Regions from separate parts of the Homo sapiens genome. Here region 2 is linked to region 1. Evidence: fine-mapped expression QTL. Tissue or cell type: monocytes after R848. Region 1 holds a variant in brackets; the other region holds the start of a gene. All regions are shown on one strand. Distances are between the middles of the regions. Region 1 has its middle 20 kb from the start of SOS1. Region 2 holds the start of SOS1 (SOS Ras/Rac guanine nucleotide exchange factor 1).

Evidence for each region. PIP is the estimated chance that this variant, and not a neighbour inherited with it, causes the effect.
Region 2: SOS1 starts here. The variant in region 1 is fine-mapped to the expression of SOS1 in monocytes after R848 (Quach 2016, PIP 0.95). The same link has a PIP of 0.9 or more in monocytes after LPS and monocytes after Pam3CSK4.

The regions. Positions count from the first base shown.
Region 1 is chr2:39,139,787-39,142,695 of GRCh38, forward strand. No RefSeq gene overlaps it. Among named protein-coding and RNA genes, the nearest start is that of SOS1, 20 kb to the left of the region's middle. RefSeq lists a cis regulatory region at 2,090-2,542 and a silencer at 2,286-2,470. The variant A/G (reference allele first, on the strand shown) is at 1,568.
Region 2 is chr2:39,119,786-39,122,694 of GRCh38, forward strand. It overlaps SOS1 (SOS Ras/Rac guanine nucleotide exchange factor 1), which reads right to left and starts at 1,266. Exons shown (of 23, transcript NM_005633.4): 1 at 551-1,266. The coding sequence starts at 637. RefSeq lists an enhancer at 136-215 and a silencer at 416-1,135.

The sequences.
Region 1 (2,909 bases):
ATGCAAAAAGACTCAATGATTTGACTGTGTATTTGCTTGTATCTTGAGGGTAAAAACTAAGTCTGCTACTTAATATTTCCCTGAGGGGACTTGATATCTAAATAATGTTCTATATAATAAATGTTCTTGAGCAAGCGAAGTGTTTGAGCATTTTTTTGGAAAGGGCAAAAGGCTGTTCCAAATTACATTGAAGTCTCTGTGATTCTTAGACTAGGATGATGCAAGGTTGATGTAAATTACAGTATTTTGTTATGACTTTAGGCGAATTAATTTGACTCTGAGGTCTGATCCCAAATCAGATAACAGAGAAATATATTTATAGTTGGCAAGAGCAAACTAGAGATAGTGAAATATCTGGTTTCAGTTTTTATTTTGTATAGTTTTAGGATCTATGTAATACAACACATACAAAGCTACTTAAAATATCTCAGTTACTCTTATTGGAGTAACCTAAACACAAAAATTAATTTGCAAAAACAATAATACCTTGCACTTATTAAGTGATTACTGTGAACCGGGAACTGTACCAAGTGCTTAACATGTATTAACTCACATGTTGCTTTGGAAACCTGGATTAGATAAGGGCTTTTATTATTCCTATCTTACAGAAGAGTAAACTGAGGCATAGAAGGTTTAGTAGTTTACACCAGGTCACACAGCTAAGCAGTGGTTTCACATTCCATGGTCTTCACGACCACACTATAAAGCCTTTCTAAATTTGTGCTTGTAAATATAATTAACTAAGGAGTTTGCCCTATGGTTAACTTATTTAGTTTCGTAATATTTTCAGGAAGAGAATAGAAGCAGTGGGATATTGTGTAAAGAGTCCAGGAGTTTTGAAAGTCAAGACCTGCACGTGGGTTCCAATTAAAGCTCATGTATGACCTTGAACAACACTGTTCTGAACTTCAGTTTCTTCATGTATAAACCAGGTCTAATAATAGTTGCCCTACCTAACTCATAGATTGTCATGAGTATCAGATAGTATAATGGGTGTAAAAGTGCTTTGTAAATTGCAAAGTGATAAACAGAAATGGGTCAGACACATAATCTTAACACTACAAAGAAACAGGTTTTTTTGGCCAGGCACCATGGCTCACGCCTGTAATCCCAGCACTTTGGGAGGCCAAGGCGGGTGGATCACTTGAGGTCAGGAGTTCGAGACCAGCCCGGCCAATATAGTGAAACCTCGTCTCTACTAAAAATACAAAAAAAAAAAAATTAGCCAGGCGTGGTGGCGCATGCCTGTAGTCCCTGCTCCCTGGGAGGCTGAGGCAGGAGAATGGCTTGAACCTGGGAGGCGGAGGTTGCAGTGAGCTGAGATCGCACCACTGCATTCCAGCCTGGGTGACAGAGCAAGACTCCGTCTCAAACAAAAAATGAAACAGGTTTTTCTATTTATAAAACAGTGAGTTCACATCCCAGTTTTAAATATTCTAGATCCTTAAATGATTTCTCTTTACAGTTTATTTATGACTGAATTTTTTCAAACTGGCAATTTTCTTTTTTCCCCCATAATTTACTTGACTTCCCCTTCTGGATGTATTAAAAGTGTTGTAATGTCATT[A/G]TGCAAATAAAGTGTATTTTGCATGCTTTTTCCAAGGGCAAATTTTAACTTCTTGTCATGTTTCCATTTTATCTGCAATATTCAGGCGACATAGTCTGCTGCTCTGGTGGCTCATGCATTTGTGTTTTGCATATTTCATACAAGAAAATAGAGAAAAAAGAGAAGTCAGCCAGATGGGATTCTCTTTCCAGGCAGAGAAGAACTAGAAAAATTTGCATGGCCACGACCTCTTCTATAGACAAAGGATGCTTGTTTTCAGGACTGGCAATTGGTCAGAGGGTGACAACCCATCCCCAAATTCCTGAGGCAGCCCTAGGTTTACAATCTGAGGTTCTGGAATAGTTCCCAAGATGCAATTATTTCCAAATTTAATCAAACCTCAGAAAATAGCTAATTAAAAATAATCATATAAAACAGCAGGCCCTTTCTCCAAAATTAAACACACACTTTCTTATATCGGCTGTTTAGCCAAGTCTTACAAAGACCCGGCCACCTGTTTGGGGTGGGGGGAGGTGTTAGACTTCCTAAGAGGTGACTGTTCTTGGCAGCCACCTCTACCCAGGCCGTCCTGGAATCTGTCATTGTCAGCTTCTGCCAAGAAATGTTTTTGTACTTGCTGGATAAAGACAGGCAAGGAATTTTTTGACCTCTGTTCGAATCCCAAATCCCTTTTCCATACTCTTATTTGTATTCTTTAAATGACATAATTACAGTAATGCTCCTAAAACAGTGGATGGCACTGAAAATGAATGGGATCCTCCCTCTTTCATCTATCTTTCTAGCTCCCTGCAGCCCTGGCTGACCTATTTCTCCAGGCTCTGCCCTACTACCCAGAAAGTTGGGTGTGGTTCCGAGAAGGTTTGGTTGGGGATTTACATTTCAGTTTGCGTTGATGATTTAATCAATTGCTTGTGTCTTTTTCAGCAGAAAACCAAGCAGAATCTTTTTGTCACCAAATTTGTATTTACCAAAATTAATATCTCATTGAGTAGACTACCATAGAGTATGTAAGGGGAGTATTTTTCTAAAATCAGAAAATTGTCAAGAATACATAGACCATAAAGGAGATGCTTGGGAAAGCAATACTTGGGAGTTGAGGAGATTAAAGCCCTTTTCCTGATTAATGTTAACTTATATTAACAGCTAAAACAAGGCCGGGTTCGGTGGCTCATGCCTGGAATACCAGCACTTTGGGAGGCCAAGGCAGGCGGATCACTTGAGATCAGAAGTTCAATACCAGCCTGGCCAACATGGTGAAACCCCATTTCTACTAAAAATACAAAAATGAGCCAGGCATGGTGGCACACACCTGTAATCCCAGCTATTCAGGAGACTGAGGCAG
Region 2 (2,909 bases), 20 kb before region 1:
ATGTGCACCAGCCCCTGTTAATCGGAGGAGCGGGGGAAACCAGGAGAATGAGGAGTGAATACTGACGGCGAGCAGAGCAGGCCACGTTCCTACTGGCAGGCGAGCTCGCAATTCCTTTGAGCAAGCCTTACGGCCAGGGCATTCTCAAGCCACTAAAACCAGCGTACTGGACACCTAAAACGGTAGGCTGACAGCAGCTCCGGGCTAAGACCAAGAAGACGGAAAAGTGGCCTGCTTTGACCTCCGCTGAAAACTGAGGCTCCTCCAACTGTTGTTGTCCTGGAATCAAAGGGCAAAGCATTCACCTCTCAGGGGTTGGATTATCCGGATAAACTCCCCCCGGCTCCCTGCGGCATTCCCACACACCCGGTGGATGTCAACACCGAGAGCCAGCCGTATGAGGGGGGCCTCTCCGTGTGCGCCGTCCTTTTGGAGACGCGGCGAGACCGGGAAGAAAGACGGCCCTGCGCGCGCCCCGCCTCCCCAGCCCTTCCCCAGCGCCCGCGCTGGGGGGCTGCGGCCGGGAAGCGGGGTCCCGCGTGCTCCTCACCTTTTTCAGCGCAGGCACCAGTAGTCCCCGCCACTTGGGCGCGTTCTCTTCGCTGAAAAACTCGTAGGGCAGCTGCTGCGCCTGCATGGTGCCCCCGGGGCGCCTCTGGGCGGGGAGAGGGGCGGCGGCGGCCGGGCCAGGGAGCCGCGAGAGGGCGAGCTCGCAGCGCGGAACAGGGCCGCGGCCCCACCGGACGGCCCGGCCCCCTCCGGGCGCCGCGCAGCCGGGCTAGCCCTGGCGAGGGGGCTGGGGGGCGAGGCCCGCGCCTGGCCACCCACCCGACACAGGTACCAGCCGTGGAGAACGGACGCGGCCCGGAGGCGGCGGCATCCCGCACCACCGCCCCGGGGCCAGGCCCCCCGCCCCTCCCCGGCCCGCCGGCGCCGCCCCGGGCTGCCCTCTGCCGCGGCCGCCGCCCGCCCGCCGGGGCTGCACTCCCGGGCCCGGTCTGGCCCCGCGGCGGAGCTGGCGGCTGGGGGAGGACGTGTGGAGGGACGCTCCGGCCGCGGCGCCCGCTCCGCGTAGTTGGGACTCCGAAACGCAAGAGCCCCGGGCGGGGCGGAGCTGGGGCGGAGGTCTCGCGGGGAAGGGGAAGGACCGGAGGTCGTTGTTGGGGAATCTGGCTGCCCTGAGGTGCCGCCGCGGCCGCCGCCGCCACCGCCGCCGCCGGTGTAGCGCTGGAGCTTCCTACTAGCGAACTGAACCTGCTCGCTACTGAGCATGCGCTGCCGTGCTGGGCTGGTTCGCTCCGGGTTTTCCGGCTCCCGGTGAAGGAGGAGGAAAGCTCGAGAGAGAAAGAGAGAGAGAGACAGGGAGGGCGCCCGGCCGGGCTGTGGCTGCGCTCCTGGGGGCTGCAGGGGAGGGGCGAAGGGGCCCGAGAAGTCGCACCCTGGCAAAGTGGGGCCTGCAAGGGTGGGTGATGACTAGGGTAAAGAGGCTCCCCATTGTGTGGCCTGGCCGTGAGGGCTCCCACCCTTCTCGGAGTCCCTGGGCCCTTCGTTTCGGAAAGGGGTGTGTGTACTTTGTTCCTGAACACGAAGATAAGGACTGCCCAGAGCACGCAATGTATAGTAAACAGACTGGACAAAAGACAGGTGCTCTGTCACGAAACCTACTGCTCAGTATCTGCTGAGTAGTAGAAGTGATTGCGGTGTTTCTAAGTGGTCTTTCCACAAAATAATAAAATGTGTACGTGTAGTATTGATTTTGTGTGAATGTTTTAGATTCCCTCTGTTCATCTTTTAAACCCACTCCAGAAATGAACTCCAGTAAGCACTTTCCTCCAGTGGATATCGAGACCTCTTTTACAGCTCCTAGAGCACTGCACTTATGCCCCTCTCAGGGCGTTCAGTCTATTGTGTTTTGTTATCTTTTGCGGTTCTTTCGACTAGATAATAAACTGGAAGGCAGATCTTTTTCACCAGGGCCTCTACACAGTGTAGAACAGGCACTCAGTCAATGTTAGTGGAATGCTAAAGGAGCAGTATTTATAAACTGTCCCTCCAGGCCACTGTTTGTTTATAATAGGGGCACTTTGTGGCAGACACCTTATGATTTATCATTAATTATCATTTTTTTGAGTATCATCTCATTTAATCCCCATAGCAACCCTATTATTTTCATTTCACCGATAAGAAGGCAGTTTAGAGGAACTAGCCTGGGTTAAAGCTGACATTGTGTCCTGCTATTCCTGAGAACAGTAACCAGGATCACATAAACGAGAAAGGTTCAGTGGTTCTTAATCTTTACAGGACCTCTTTGAAAATCTGGAAAAACAACTCTTAGGTTATTTCCTTTAAAAATACACAGGCCGGCCAGGCGAGGTGGCTCATGCCTGTAATCCCAGCACTTTAGGAGGCCGAGGCGGATGGATCACCTGAGGTCAGGAGTTCCAGACTAGCCTGGCCAACACTGTGAAAACCTGTCTCCATAAGAAATACAAAAATTAGCCGAGCATGGTGGTGGGCGCCTGTAATCCCAGCTACTTGGGAGGCTGAGGCAGGAGAATCGCTTGAACCCAGGAGGCAGAGGTTGCAGTGAGCCGGGATCATGCCACTGCACTCCAGCCTGGGCAACAAAACCAAAACTCCGTTTCAATTCAAAAAAAAATATACACACACACACACACACACACACACATACACACAGACCGGCCGGGCGCAGTGGCTCACGCCTGTAATCCCAGCACTTTGGGAGGCCGAGGTGGGCGGACCATTTGAGTTCAGGAGTTTGAGACCAGGCTGGCGAGACCCATCTTTATTGTTTTATTGAAAAAATAAAAATATACATACTTGGTTTACATTTGAAAAACTCCCCACTTTCAAAGTGTGTGGAATGAAAGCTGGAATTATAGGCGCCT